Linked DNA regions of Homo sapiens: region 2 is linked to region 1. A link means that fine-mapping ties the variant in region 1 to the expression of a gene that starts in the linked region. Tissue or cell type: unexposed skin. Region 1 holds a variant in brackets; the other region holds the start of a gene. All regions are shown on one strand. Distances are between the middles of the regions.

Evidence for each region. PIP is the estimated chance that this variant, and not a neighbour inherited with it, causes the effect.
Region 2: THSD4 starts here. The variant in region 1 is fine-mapped to the expression of THSD4 in unexposed skin (GTEx, PIP 0.98).

The regions. Positions count from the first base shown.
Region 1 is chr15:71,543,655-71,551,746 of GRCh38, reverse strand. The region is part of intron 7 of THSD4 (thrombospondin type 1 domain containing 4); the gene reads right to left. Among named protein-coding and RNA genes, the nearest start is that of THSD4-AS2, 140 kb to the left of the region's middle. The variant T/C (reference allele first, on the strand shown) is at 3,780.
Region 2 is chr15:71,112,033-71,120,136 of GRCh38, reverse strand. THSD4 (thrombospondin type 1 domain containing 4) reads right to left here and starts at 4,666. Exons shown (of 18, transcript NM_024817.3): 1 at 4,439-4,666. It overlaps CT62 (cancer/testis associated 62), which reads left to right and starts at 4,633. Exons shown (of 4, transcript NR_168260.1): 1 at 4,633-5,213; 2 at 6,374-6,506; 3 at 7,843-7,989. RefSeq lists an enhancer at 1-56 and silencers at 4,273-4,362, 4,513-4,652, 4,683-4,742, 4,589-4,766, 4,803-4,852.

The DNA of each region.
Region 1 (8,092 bases):
AACAAGCTTCCTAGCTGGCAACATTTCCCATGTGTTGTCATAACCCATTGCTAGGGGAAGTAAGTGGGTCCTGCGTGCCTTCCCTGGGAAAAAAAAACCTCGGGAGCTTCCATCTCGTTTCCCCCAGACTTTACCCCAGGAACCTTTTCCTTTTGTTGATTTTCTTCGTATACTTTCACTGTAATAAATCATAGCTGTGATTGCCAATGTATGCTAAGTCACTGAATCACGACAGATAATTGAATCTTAGGGGTTATCTTGAAGACCCCCAACACACAGCCCTTCAAGCCTCAGTTCAAATATGTCATCATTTGTGGAATCTTTCTTTGCTTTCTTAGGTAGCTTCCCATTGCTCTTGCAATTAATGAGAGACCCTTATTGCATGATCATTCACTGTTTGTATTCTGTGCCCCTTTTAGAGTATAAGCTCATCAAATACAAAGATCTGGTCTTTTCACCTTTCTTTTTTCAGCACAGGGTTAATACACTTGGTAGCATTTGCAATGGTGATTATAGTCGATAACACATTTTACACAATGGGAGCATTTTATGCACATTCAATTTGCTTTTCCTACCTAAAAGCATATCCTGGTAGTCATTTCATTACACATCTAGAGCTACCTCATTCTTTCTGAATAAATGCACAGCATGCCTTATCACTAGGACAGTAGGATGGAAAGGACCTAATTATGACAGGTGGCTCATAGAACATTTTACACACTCAGAGTAGACCTATATGATAAAAAGTCTTAGAAATGGAAAATCTGGATCCAAAAGACATTTATTTATTTTTAATGTAAAAAACTGTGATATAATTTACATGCCATAAAATTGCTCTTTTAAAGGATATGGTTCAGTAGTTTTTAGGATAGTCACAAAATTGTGCAACCATCACCACTACCTAATTCCAAGACACTTTCATCACCATGAAAAGAAACCTTGTCTGTACCCATCAGCAGCTAAGATATTTATTTTTCATTTTGATAGGTTTTGCCATACTGTACCGTCAAAATTAAAGAACATCCACGCCTGTAATCCCAGCACTTTGGGAGGCTGAGGTGGGCGGATCACGAGGTCAGGAGATTGAGACCATCCTGGCTAACACAGTGAAACCCCATCACTACTGAAAATACAAAAACAAAATTAGCCGGGCGTGGCGGCAGGCACCTGTAGTCCCAGCTACTTGGGAGGCTGAAGTGGGAAAATGGCGTGAACCCGGGAGGCGGAGCTTGCAGTGAGCCGAGATTGTGCCACTGCACTCCAGTCTGGGCGACAGAGCAAGACTCTGTCTCAAAAATAAGAAAATTAAAGAACATCTTTTTGACCACACTTTGCAGAATTTATCATATTATTCCAAATATGGAATGTAGCAGATTTCTAGTTGCATCTCCCTCCCTGTCCCTACATATAACAATGTCTCATTGGTCTTATCTGAGAAGGTAAGTCCAAGTTCAAGAAAGAAAATGCAAGCCTCCCATTCCCACCTCCCCTTCCCCGCCATTCTGCTGCATCCTGCAAAGAAGCTGCACGTTGGCACGCTCCCCACGCTGACAAATGCCTCAAAAGTCCAGCTTGACTTTAAAAGTCCTTTACAGTCTTTTCGGGGATACGCCCCATCTGTACAAGTGTACACGACTGCCACCCTAACCTTGACTAAGACAAAAGGGATTCTCATGATCTCACTGTTCTGAGTTTAATGCTCTGGCAATGGGAAAATTAAAGAAGGCACAGTTCTTTTCTGTGTCTGTCCTCCAACCCATGCACTGACACCATACCAGGTTGTTCTGTCCTTGGACCACAGTCACCAGCACTGACAGTGCCAGCCACAGGACGCCAAACAAGGCTTGCTTTGCATCACAGCCCTCCTCTCCCCACCTGCCAGGTCCTGCTTATCTGAAAGGACCTCACACCCTAGAAAACTGACTGTAAACTGCTTCCCAGAGTGTGCCGCTTGGCTTCCAGCCCCACGTGGAGAACACAGCCCTCCAAGCGCCCCCAGGTGTATGACGCTTTCTTACCCATTCTTCCTTCTCCTCATGTGTTTTTAGGAACATCCAAAGGGAAGATAATTAAAACCTGCAAGAAAACCAGCTGGCAGAGAAAAGGAAAATCCTGGTGACTTAGTGACGACGCCACATGTTTATGGGTAAGTTTTGCAAGTAACACGACAATAAAAAAGAGGCTGTTATAAATAAATGCCACATTCTTCAAAGCTCTATATAAACTACATTCTTTTTAAGAGGTGGGGGCTACTCATACTCATGCTCCTTCCTCATCATTTCATTTCCAAGAAGGAAAAAGGAATCCTAATTGTATAATTTCCTAGGAGCTCAGGCGTTCTGGAGCCAACAGCACAGAAACACACACGCACTCACACACGCATGCACACACATGCACACACTAGGGGAAAGAGGGAAAGCAAGAAAGAAAAGAGGAAGAGGCCCAAGAGGATCTTTACTTAGCAAAGCAGAGTGGAACAAAGGGGCAGGAGGGCAGGCATCTCACTACCTCTGATCGGGTTTTCTAGCTATTCATGTTAAGCACACATACTTTTAACTCATAAGACAAAACCTCTGCCTTCCTCTCTCAAACGCTGAGCACTGTCTGAAAAGCACCAAGATTTGGGTGAGCCTGTATAATCCCTTTCATTTTTCATCTGCTTTGCTGATTGTCAGGTGAAGCAGAGCCATTTGCCACTCTGCATGTGACACAAGGCTAGGGGCACACAGATTCCGGCGTGGCCTTCCCCACGAGTCAGCTGTGTGCAGGTAACTAAAGCCTGCCCTTTGCTTGCTGTTAATAAGAATAATTGGCACACCACTGAGGGGCTGCTGGAGCACTGTGATTTGCTCAGTTCGGGGGTCTCCCCAGACCATATGTGCATGCAGCGGTGATAGAAATATTTTCCATATGAGCTCTCCTCTCGCCTGCTTAAATGCTCCAGGCTGAGTGAGGCCAGCCCATTTGTCATTCACTCTACACACGAAAAAAATCAACAGGGAAATTGCGAACTTCAACTACAACTAGAGGGCAATGGTCTGCTTTCAGCTTCCAGCATCACTCACCCATTCAGTTCCTCCTGCTCCCATTCAAGGGCTCAATCCCCCCACAGGCCCAGAAAATGTCTACAGAGCAGAGGACATGAGTAACTAATAAGTGAAAAGCCTACAACAAGTGACCCGTTGCTGCATGTCTCTGAGCTGCATGTCTGTTTTGAACAGAGCAACAAGCCTGCTGAAACCACAGCTAGCCTTGCAGCCGTGGGCTTGGGAGCACTCCCACTTCCACTCTTCTTAGACAAGGGAAAGTAATTACATTAGGCTTTCAGAGCCTGCTTGGTCCCTGACAAGGCTAACAAAAGGCAAAGCTGTGAAGTGGCCTCATGGCCTTTTTAGGAGATACACTTTTCATTTGGCTTTTCAAAGACGAAGATGGATGCAGGAGAAAGGCTGTCCTTTCGTTACTCAGGCATCAGGGTAAGGAGGGAAAGGAGTGGATGAGGGAAATACGTTGCAGGCTTGTTTGCAGGTGAGGGTGGATACACCAAGGTGCTTCCCTCTCTGGACTCAATGATCATCTATCCCAATCTCTTTGCCTGCATCAAAAACTGACTCCAGGAGGTATCACTGATGTTAAAAAAAAAAAAAAACTGTACCCAACAATCACATGAACTAAACCAGTAATAATAAATCATCCTCATGAACTTAAAATATGTCTCCCTGCTAAGGTACATCTGGGTACACTCCTAGCCCTGTTGTATATCATTCTCCCTCTTCAAA[T/C]CTATGATAGAAAGTTAAGCACAGATTTTTCTAAGCACATCAAAGAAAAAAAAAAAGAGAGAAGTGTTGCAAAAGCAGGGAAGAAAAGCAATTCCCCTAGCATGTACATTCTCTCTGCAGCACTGGAGAAAAATTCTCAAAAGGTAACAGTCCCTAACGAAATCTGACATGGCACATCTTTTTTTTTTTCTGCTACAGCAGGAGAAGCGTGCGTGCTACAGGCATCTGTCACCAAGGCCAGAGCAACTTCCCAGTGTGGCAACTGCACAGACAGCTTCAAAATGACATTTTAGAAAGTATAAAATTCTTCAAGAAGAAAAGAAGTCTTCATATAAGAAAAGGCAAGAGAAGCCTACAAAAGTAATATAAAGCATTACTCTTTGCACCCCATAAAATTCCATTCCCTGATCCCTCTTGGTAGATAGAAGAGGAAATATAATGCTGAAAAAAAATACAACTTCTGACAAGATATTTTATTTGGCTTACCTCTCCCCCAGGTCTTGCTAACACTGCTGTTTGAACGTGGAGCAATGTTAATATCAGGTAGCTGACAAACATTATTACCCAAAGTTAGAACTACCCTAGAGGAGAACTCCGTCTGCCAAGTGCTAACAGCTAGCAGATGCACTTGTGTCTCGGGATTCCAGCCCTGGAGTTCCGCTAGGCACCGCGCTGGTTCCCTCGGCTCTCCCTCACTGTACTGCCCGGCGCTTCGAGCTCAGCCTCTGTTCTGAAGAAAACTGGTAAGCTGATCTCTTCATGTAATAACTTCTCCCGGCTGGGGGAGGGGACAGGAGCCAGCTGGGAGCTGGGGGGCTGCCTTTAACAGAAAGCAGAAAGGGGAGGGACAGAAATGATCAATGTGGAGTTCTGCATCTGGTCTCATTCATGAAAAGGGTTCCAAGGTAAGCACGCCACATGCAGGGGGACAGCCCCTACCTCGTCCACTGAGGCAGGGAGGAGGCAGTGAATTGCAGCAGGATGAGCTCCGGGCTGGGAACGGGGAGAGCCAGGGCCTTCCTAGTCCAGGATCTGGGACTGACAAGCTGTGTTTGCCTGGACAAGTTGCCAGTCCGCTCTGGGCTGCAGTTTATTTTTCTCACTTATACAAAGGTTGGGTGAATGACTTCTGAGTTCCCTTTTAGATCTGATTTGATGGTTGCAGAAATCTAGGCAGTTAAAAGCTGCATTATCAAGGGCAGCCTCAACAGGGACAGAAGTCACAAGGGTGATGTGTGTTTGTGCACCAGTTGTATAGACACAAACGGATGGGAACTGTGGAAGCCATTATATCCCCCTCTTGCTGCATCCCTGGGTCACTATGCCTAACCAAGAGCTTGAGGAATTATTGCAGAAAATGTAAAAATAGGTGGTAACATGGGAACAAGTGAATCCCAAGTGTCAGACAGTGCTGTCAGAGTACACTGAAATGCAGGATGGTTTTAAAGAAATAAGAGCTACCTCTGAGTAGACTCACATAGACCATCAAAGTGGGGCTTGGGAGCATGGGGAGCAGGCTGGGAAAAGGGTCTTCCTAAAGCCTACAATGCACTTGAGATACACTTTACATGGTCACCTGTTATCCTGAAATAGCAGAGACCATGGTTTAAAATGGATTAGAACCCATCAAGTACTGTATTCTGCCTAGAGTGGGCTCAAGGTGCTATTCTGAGGCTCTTGGTGGCCACAGAGGATAGGATGACTGCACGGTGCAGTGGAAACACCCTGAGGTCCTGGAATTAGGCAGGTGTGGGTTAAACTCCAGTTGTACTTCAAACTCTTCATGTGTGTCTCTGGGTGAGTATTTAACCCTGGTGAGCCCTAGTCTCCCCTCCTGTGAAATAGGGAAATGCCATCCTATGGTTATGATGACTATCAATGAGCTCACCTAGGCACAAAATGTGGCATAGTTCCTGGCACACAGTAACTACTAAAGACACAGGCTTTCTCTTTGATCTGAAATAAGTATCAGCAGCCAGCCCCAGAAAGTAAATTAATAAACACTTGAAAAGCCTCAGGTTATGAGCATTTTCCTGCATTAATGAGGAAACTTTAAACCTAACTGCAGTTCGTAGCCATCTCAGAAAGTTTATTATCACCAGTCACATGACCATTTACCAGTGGGGAGTTTTTTGGTGGGGGACAGGGAGGGAAGAACTTTCATTCCTTTTTACAGGGCTGTAAGAGAAAAAAAGGTATAGTGAGGATAATATCTCCAGTTAAGGAAAGAAAGGAATGAATTTTTCCTCTTCCTCCTTCTTAGTCATTGTTACTGTTCAGCTTTGGTTCTGTTCTGCTACCTAACTAAAGGGGCAAAGTTATCTACCGAGTAACCTCATGAGAAATGCAGGAATTATTTAAGAAAGCCAAAGTTCTTGAAAGACCAGGAGTGTTGTCTAGCCAGGGGTTGGGAAACTTTCTGTAAAAGGCCAGATGGTAAATATTTTAGGTTTTACAGACCACGTGGGCTCAAGTAGCAACTACTCAACGCCGCCATTATAGCACAAAGGAAACCACAGACAACACACACATGAATGGGTGTAGCTGTGTTCCAATAAAACTTTATTTGTAAAAACAGACAGGCGGCCAGATTTGACAGTAGTTTGCCAGCCCCTGGTCTAGACACTTCTCAATCACCCTTCAATCCACTGCAATCTTTTGACCTGTCTGCTCTACTGCAAGGGCTCTGGAAAGGTCACCAATGGCCCCTGTGTCACAAAATTCAAAAGAGAATCACTAAGAACTCATTTACTTCTCTGTAACCATGTCCTCCTTTTAATATTGTGGTAACATATAGACAACATAAATTTATCATTTTGGCCATTACTAAGTATACAATTGAGTGGCGTTAAGTACATTCACAATGTTGTGCAGCCATCACCACTATTCATTTCTAGAACTTTTCCATTATCCCAAACAGAAACTCTGTATTCACTGAACACTACCTCTCCATTTCCCCTCCTCCAAGCCCCTGGCAACCTCTATGCTACTGTCTGTCTCCATGAGTTTTCCTGGTCTAGGTACTTCATATAAGTGGAATCATACACTACAGTATTTGTCCTTTTGTGTCTGACTTATTTCACAGAGCATGTTCCCAAGGTTCATCCACTCTGTAACAGGTATCAAAACTTCATTCCTTTTTAAGGTTAAGCAATATCCATTGTATGGATATACCACATTTTGTTCATTCATCCATCTGTTAATGGACACTTGGATTGTTTCTACCATTTGGCTGTTACGCATAATGCTTCTATGACCATGGCTGTACAAGTATCTGTTTGAATCCCTGCTTTCAATTCTTTTAGATATATATCTAGGAGTAGAATCACTGAATCATACGGTAATTCTATGTTTAACTTTTTGAGAAGCTACCAAACTGTTCTCCATAGTGGTGACACCATTTTGCATTCTCACCAGCAATGCATGAAGGTTCAATTTCTCTACCTCCTTGACAACACTTATTATTTTCCACTTTTTTGACAATAACCATCTTAATGGGTGTGAAACGTATGTCCTCCTGTTTGAACCACTCTCTTTCCATAGCTTCCAGGGCTATGGCTCTAGATTTCCTTTGCCTCTAATCAGCCAACATTCGTTGAGCACTATGAGCCCAGTATTACTAAAATTATTTTAAAAACTTTTAAAATAGTTTCATGTAACCATGACAACAGTCTTATTAAATAATTTGCTCCATGTCACACAGCGGTAGGTGGCAGTCGGCATTCTGACCCTAAAAGCCTTTGTCCAGAGCCTGACTCTTAATGACAGCACTGCCTTGTTACCATTGCTCTGGACTCCTTGACACACCCTGGGCCTAGCTCCTAAATTCCTATATTCTAGGCCCTGTCTCCTCTCTATCTGCCCTTGTTGGGCCATCCTATCCTTCCAATGGCCCCAATGCTTTACACATCCATGACTCTTTTTTTATTTTTATTTTTTGAGATGGAGTTTCATTCTTGTTGCCCAGGCTGGAGTGCAATGGTGCAACCTCAGCTCATTGCAACCTCTGCCTCCTGTGTTCAAACAATTCTCCTGCCTCAGCCTCCCGAGTAGCTGGGATTACAGGCTTGCACCACCATGCCTGGCTAATTTTGTATTTTTTAGTAGAGACAGGGTTTCTCCATGTTGGTCAGGCAGGTCTCGAACTCCCAACCTCAGGTGATCCACCTGCCTTGGCCTGCCAAAGTGCTGGGATTACAGGTATGAGCCACCACACCCGGCCCACATCTGTGATTCTCTACAACCATCTGTAGCCAGGTCTCCCTCCTGACCTGTAGGTCGATATACCCAGTTGCCTAATGGATACTTGCATT
Region 2 (8,104 bases), 430 kb after region 1:
CATTCAGCCCTGTGCCCTTCAGACACAAAACCCTGGATTTGAGGGGGCCTGAGATTACATATACATTTTTGTTACAGCAATACATTGAGCTCCAATTGTCTCAAGCACTGATCAGGCACAGAGTAAAGAAATGGGGCGAGAACTAACACTGAGCGCCTGCTATGTGCCTTAGGGCTTTGCCTTAAGCTCTGCATACCCATGCACTGGTCCCCCACCAGCCCTCCAGACTTTGGCCATCCTCTTGTTACACATGGGGAAACTGAGGCTGGGTGGGTAGGAAGTGGAGCAAGGCCAGTTGAATGAAAGAGATCTGTCAACGGCCAGATCCCATTCTGGGAAAGGAGGTTCAACTCACCGTGCCTGCAGGGAGGAAGGGGCTGGCTTTGCCTGTCCAGCCCTATTCGGGGGGTCCCAAACCAAGCAACTTGGGGCTCTTGAACAAACCCACCCTGGTCTTTCTCCCTGAGCACTCGCTCAGGTCCCAAAAGAAATTCACAGTGAGTCTGGTGGCAGGTGGGTTTACATGCCTTCGAGTAAGCTGAGGGGGCTGGGCCTTCAGGACTGAACTAAAGACCCCTCGGGCCAAAAGAGAGGACCCTCTTCCTGGCCTTGGCCACAACTCTCCATTGCTCACTCCTTAGAGTCAAAGTCAGGGCCTCTGTCAAAAAGGAACATGCTGCCTGGGATAAAGTGGCGTATTAACCCACCACCTGTCGCTAGAACCACATTGTAAAGGAAGCCCAGGGCAGTGGTCCCCAAACCTGGGTGTGCGGAAGAATCGCCTGAGGTAATCTTAAAAACGCCAGTTCTCGAGCCCTGCTTCCACCCTGGAGCCTGTGTTTTCTTTCACCAGATCTGAATTTTGATTCAGATGTTCCTAAGACAACTGTTTCAGGAAATAATGATATAGTGGAAAGAACACCAGATTTAGAGAGCTGGGTTTAAGATTTCAGCTCCAAACCTGAGCTGCTGACCTCAGGCAAGTAAGCCTCAACTTTCTTCCTGTACAAGGCAGATGCTGATGTCTCCCTTCTAGGTGGCTGGGAGGATTAAAAGAGAAACCACTGAAAGCCCCAAGCATTGCACACACCAGTGCTCACTAAGCATGGCCCCAGTGAGGCTAACAAGCCAGCGAGGCTGTGGGCACAGAAGTAAGTTTTGACAGGAGGAGGAAAAGAGAGCAAAACAGGCCTAGATGATGAAGGGGTGTCCCAGCCTCAGCACAGCGGTCCTGCGGAGGAGGAGTAAAATTGGGGGATCCCAAGAGGGGGCCAGAGGCAGCAAAGCAGCCTAAAGCCAGAGCTTCCCCTGAATCTTCTCCTCACCTGCGTCAGCCTGCATCATGTGTTGGCTTCCAGCATAACATTTTTAATCCATTTTCACAGCGAGGATATTCAACAAATACACATGAAACCTTTATATCTGCGCATAAGTAAACATCACGATTCTGCATACACACGCAAAGAAAAAGATGGGAAAACCAGAAAGAAGAGGAGAGAGAAGAGAAAAGTGAGATGAGGGGTCAAACCCAGGCAAATAGTCATGTGCTTTCAAGTGTGCTGGGGCCACTAACATGAGGACAGTGTGTTCCATGACCTGGAGAGGCCCAAGGAGGCTGCTCGGGGGAAACCTCAGAGTGGCTGGGGAGGCGAGGCTCATCCAGGCTGAACATAGAGCAGGCACAAAGAATGCAGGGAAGAGACACAGGAGTGTGTGCAAGAAAGGCTGGGTGGGATACACTGCCTGGCAAAATTTAGATCAGAAGAGGGGAAATCTGAATTTCTGAGCTGGGGATGGGAGGTGTGGGGAGGGCAGATAAGACCATGATAGAGACTGGGTGAGTGGAGGGATGGCCTTCAAGCAGGAAGGCGTTGGGATGGCTCTTGGATCAATAAAGTAGACTGGGATTAGGAAACATTTTAAATGCCCTGATGAAAAGTAACCTGGATTCAACCGTGTCCATACAGTACTTTCCTATCTTTCAGTCTTTCCTCGAGCTCTTTCCTCTGCTTGGCCTGTCCTCCCTCCCCACCAGCCTTTCCCATCTCCTTGAACTCCTCCTTAGGCTTCAAAGCCCAGTGGTAACTGCCCTAGCTCCTCCCATGCAGAATCAATTTCTCCCTCATTCGCATCTCCTTGATGTTTTGCACATCCCCCTTGTATTGCGGTTATTTCTTTACTTCCCTTTCTCCCCTGGGTGGTTATTTATCATCTGCTAGCCTGTGGACTCCCTGAAGGCAATGATATTGTCTTGTTCATAGCGTAAGCTCCAGCACATAGTAACAGTCCCTGGCACATAGTAACAGTCCCTGGCACATAGCAGACGCTCAGAAATATCTGTTGGAGATAAATTAAATAGAAGTGAATACTGGGGAGCCATTGTGATTTCTTGAGAGAAATGATGTGGTGAAATCAGAATTTCAGAAATATTAATCTATCAGCATGAAAGAAGATGGATTAAAATGAAGAAAGCAACTCGTGGCTGGGAGTCAAGAGGGGAGATTATTACTGTAATTTGGACATGGTTGAAGGTGGGGGCAGTGGGAATGGAGACAGGTAAATAATTCCTCAGATATCACAAAAGAATGTGGAAGAGATTTTGCGATGAATGAGCTATAAATGTGGGGGACAGAATGGGAGTGTTGGGAACATTTAAACATTGAGACTCCCAGCAATTAGGATAAAAGTGGTACCATGGAGAGAAATGTGGGGGATGGAGAAGACGGCAATACACAGCCTCTGTGTAGGATAACTGATTGCAATCTCCACAAGTTTTTCGAGGCAAAAACAAAAACAAACTCCAAGTCAAAAATCTCCCCACCCCTGATCTTCCTCCCAAACTCTGGGCTGTATTTTTCTTTCGCTAACAGCCAGTAAGAAATATTTCTTTATGGCATAGGAGACTAAAAAGAAGGTAATGCCAAGCTGGTGCCCCGCCCAGTGCTGGGCACAGAGGAGATCACATGAGTTCCACTGGCCAGCCTCCCCACAAGAAACCAACCCAGTTGCTTATTCAGAAGGGGCTCCAGTATCCTGATCACCCAAACTCATTTCCCAGGCCCAGACCTCTGGGAAATCCCTGCTCCAGCCCTGCAGAGATTTATAGGAAAGTCCCAGGACGCCCATCTGCTTGCTTCCTCACATTAATTTCAGGGCTAGGATTTTGTTTTCTAAAGGAATTCAACTATGATGCCAACAAAAATCTATAGGAATTGAAGAGTTCCGTATTTTAAGTCACATTTTTAAAATGTTTGCTTCTTTGTATATTGAGACCCAGTAAGACCCTAGTAAGCCCAGTTACTCCATCACCTCCAACAATATTAATCAAGTAGAAGACACGCGGATTTTAAAAGCTGTGTGATCCTTGAAAAATCTTCAGACTGTCAGGGGTCCTGGGTGCCTCCAACTGTGAAAGGAGGGTTGGACAAGGCGATTCCTTAGATCTCTCTCGGGTATCTATTTCTCTAATTCCAAATTCCAACAGGCATCCAATGATTGCTACCCACGTCCAAGCTTTAGACTCATAGCCCGAAAAGGGCGAAGCGCAGCGTGGTAGAGATCGCAAAGGAGACAGGAAGAGAAGCAAGCATGCACTTTTAGTAAGACGGCAAAGGAGGCTGGGAGGTACGGTGCTGGGTGCGGACTGCTTAAAAAACTTACTAGACCACAAATTCCAGATACTTAGGTGGGCCCGAGAACGCCCTAAAATCCCCTTCCCAAGTGAGGGCTGATGTTATTTCAAATAAAAAGAAAACTTAACTTCCAGATCTGTAGAGCTCCAAGGTGAGCTCGCTGTGCAAAAGCTACTTCTGTAAGTGCGCCAAGGGGCCGCAGGTACTTAGGCTGCACTTGAGGAAGTGTCCAGAGTTGGCGGAAACAACCCATCCACTCGGGCTCCAGGCGCTCGCTGGGTTGCAGCAACTAAACTGAGACAGACAGACACACAGATCCGAGGCCCCAGGCCAGGACTCAAGGAGCGCTGACCGAGACTTGCCCGGCTCTCGGGCCCCAGGCGGGAGGGAGGCGAGGCTGAGGTGGGGGGCGCACGGGCTGGGTGTGCACTCGCCGGTCCCCTCCGACCCGACCCGGGGAGCACGGGGCCCCGACCCGGGGACGACTGAGGTGGATTGTCCCTAGAGTTTAAGACTGTCCCTAGAGTCGAGGGTGGAGGGATGAGCGCCGGCGCCAGCACAGAGCAAGACTCCCAGCAAGGAAGAGAACCAGAGAAGGAGGCGCAGCCGTCCGCACGGACCAGGCGCGCGCTGGCTCCCCGAGCCCGGAGCGGCGCAGCCCGCGGCGCCCCGGACACACCCACTGGGTAGCCCGCGCCAGCCCGCCCCGCCGGCCAGAGAGCGGGAGCCGGAGCCTGGGCAGCGGAAGCCGGGTCGGGGCCGCGCGGGCGGCGCGCAGGGGACGCGGGGCGCGCGGCTCTGCTCACCTGGCGGTCCGCGTCCCGGAGCGACCGGCGGCCGCCTCGCCTCGCCTCGCCCCCGCGTGGTTCCCGGCGCCGGGCAGCCCCGAGCGCCGCCGCATGGACGGCCGCCACCGCCGCCCAGCCGCCCCGCGCCCGCCCTGCACGGGCTCCCGCTGTGCCCCGATTCCGCGTCGGGCTGCGCGGGCGGCCAGCGGTTCAGGCGCGCGCGGAGAGCTCTGGCTCAGAGTTTGCGATCCGAGAGCGGGATCCGCGCTCCCTCGGTCCTTCCTCCCTCCCCTCTTGCGGCCTCCCGCTGTCATCTGGAGCCGCTCCTGCCGCCCCCTGGCGGCGACCGCGGGAAGGGCCGGCCCCCATCCGCACCCCTGACCCCGGAGGTCAACAACGGGATGGTCCCTGGGTCCCAGGGGAAGAGACATCACCCAGTAGGAGGGAGTACGGTCTAGACAGAGGCCACGAGGGCGGGAGGGGGCGAGAGTGGAGAGTGGCCCAGCTGGCCAGGGTCGTCTAAGTGAGAGGAAAAGGGAGAGGGCGGTTGAGACCAGGCCCTGAATTCCGCGTTCATCTTATCCTGAGGTCTGTGGGGACCTGTTGAAGGACTGGGGCAGGGGACGGACGCGGGCATCCTTCCATTTGGAACAGCCATTCCGGCAGCATCAGGATGGGGCGGAGGCAAAGCGGGGAGTGGGCGAGGCAAGTGGTGCTGTAAACCTGTGCGAGAAGGGGGCGGTGACTCTAAGGGCAGGAAGGAGCCCTGGTCACACACACACTCCCACGCAAGGTAGGACGCGCTGGGCTCCTTCTGAGGCCAAGGGGAAAGGACAAGAGCCCTCCAAATTCCAACGGGGGTTAGACAGCATGGGGAGGAGACACACACACCCTGACGGCCAGAGCCGTTCGGGATTCTTTCTTGTCTTATTCAGAGTAATATTTTGTTGGGGAAAAAAAAGCCTGCTGCAAAAAAATAATAATTCTTCTCATTAGTAATGATAAAAATCAAACTTTGATCCCTTCATTTTACGAATTGGGAAATTATTGCCCCCAAAAGGGCATGACCAAAGTGACGCGTTTAGTTAATGGAGGGAAAATTGCTAGGGCCCCGTTTCTTGAGTCCTAATTCAGAGCCAAATTCTTTACATTCGAGCCAAGGTGTTCAGAGCTGGGAAGGCAGGAAATAGAGTGACTGTGAGGAACTGTCTCTTCTTTCCCCAGAGCAGGGAGGGGGTGACAAATATTTGAAGAGGCTGTCCAGATACAGGCGTTTCCCTAAATTTCAGTCAGCCTGTTTGTTTATCGCTGCCTCTAAAGCTTGCCTGCAGGGGTTGTTTTGAAAGTGCAGGTATACCGAGAGGACAATGAAGGAGGTGGCAGAATGCAAGCTCCCTGCCCCAGAGCCAGGCAGCACCAGGGCTGGGTGCAGAGCGCTTCGTGGGAGCAGAAGGGAGCTCCCAGGGAAGATTGTCCTCCAGAAAAAAAAAAAAATTAACAAAAGGGAAAGAGGCTACTCAAGAGATTAGGCCAAAGAAAGAAACACCATTTTGAGCACCGACTACTGGCCCGGAGCCTGGCAGAGCCAGTTCTGATTGATTCAAGAGCTGGTTCCAATGGGATGAAATAATTCCACACTTGATCAAACAGATTTTGATGGGAGGCACCTGGTGTAAATGGGATTAGATTAATTCTGAGTGTCACGAGTCTCATGGGTCCAAATTAAGTCGATCTAACAGCTCTAGTAAATACTGGCCAGTTTAAACCATTTAGAACTGATTTAAAAAAAAAAACCTGCGCAACTTTAGAATGTACTTAATGTCACTGAATTATACACTTAAAAATGGTTAAAATGGAAATTTTTATGTTATGTACATTTTACCATAATTTTAAAAAAGCAAAACTAATAAGATTTGTTCAAACAAGATTGATTTATTCATTCATTCGAGACAGGTATTCAGTGCCGAGTGTGGCCTTGGTGCTAGGATTCAAAGAGGAAAGGAAGAAAACTTTCCATTCTAAAAGAAACTCCACGTGAGGCGAAGAAGATGAAATATAGTCAGAAAACCATACCAGTAGGTGGTAGGTAAATGCAGAAGTATTTAAGAGCTCATACAGGAGTACCTGCCTCAGGACAGGGAATCTGAGATGCTCTGCAGAGCTGGATCTTAAAGAACGGAGTGAGTTCATCACATAATGTCTGGGGCGAACAGGGCTCAGGAGCAAAGGATGTGGTTTTGTTTGTTATTTTTTAATTTTGAAATAATTTTAGACAAGTTTCACAAATAGTACAAAGAATCCCCTTATATCCCCCACCCTCTTCCTCTAATGTTAACATCCGACATAACCAAAGTATGATTATTAGTGAGCAAACTTGATTCGACAGACCTAGGCTGGCTCCTTAGAAGTGATTCCAGTCCATTTTCAACCTTGGTCAAATTGTTTTGACCATATTTTGCTTATATGTCACAAGAAAGTCTCTTTCTTTAAAGTCAAGATAATACTTGTTTTATTTGTTTATTTATTTTGAGAGAGTGTCTTGCTCTGTCACCCAGGCTGGGGTGCAGTGGCATGATTGCAGCTCACTGCAGGCTCCACCTCCTGGGCTCAAGCAATCCTCTCACTGCGGCCTCCCAGGTAGCTGAGACTACAGGCGTGCGCCACCACATTTGACTAATTTTTTTTTCATTTTTTATTTTTAGTAGAAAGGAGGTATTGCTGTGTTGCCCAGGCTGGTCTCAAACTCCTGAGCTCAAGTGATCCTCCGTTCTTGGCCTCCCAAAGTGCTGAGATTACAGGCGTGAGCCACAGAGACCAGCCTATACTCATTTTAAACAAAGAGATATTTACATTATGTGTAAGCATCAGTGAATATTAAGTATGCTAAGACAGCAAGTTTTAATCTTTCAGTCCTGTTATATTTCTGCTTTTATCCAAATGTGTCTGTCACGTATGAATCAGAAGAGCAGAATGTGGTCCTTGCATATAAAATAGCTTACTGACCCTCACCGAAAGAGAGAGCCAAGAATATGTGCTTCAGATCACAGTCAAAGGCTAGCCTGTGCTTACCTAGGCTGGGGGCCTGCCTGGCATGTCAGTGTCAGCTATACACAGCATCTTGGAGGGTGGGTCACCCCTTTGCATATCTGATGTGGTGAGCTACTCACTACCTCATAAAATAGCCACATTGTTCTTAGAGGCTCTTTGTTAGAAATTCCCTTTTAATTTTGACTTGAAACCTTTTGCCCTGTAATTATTATCCACTGGCCCTAGAGGCAGCTCCTAAAGGGACAGACAAGAAACATAACTCTTCTGTCATGTGTCAGTTCTGTCTATGTAAGACAGCTCTAGCTTACACCTGTTGTCCTATTATAATTATTAATTAATTATTAATAGTACCCCCCTTCATTCTCTTGTCCTAGTTAAGTTGATAAATGATGCATACGACATCCTATAGAAGACTGTCACCACCCCACCTCACTGATCAGCCCTCTGCCTACAGCCACACCCACAGAACATTCAGCCATTTCTCCTGTGGTTCCCAGCCTGCAGCACAGCGTCTGCACGTGGTGAGGGCTCCCAAATCTCTGAGGAATGAATGGCTCACTGCTGAGAGCAACCTTCTGGGAGTTCAGGGCATGTGGAACTGGAATAAGAGCAACGTGTGAACAGATTACAGGAAGG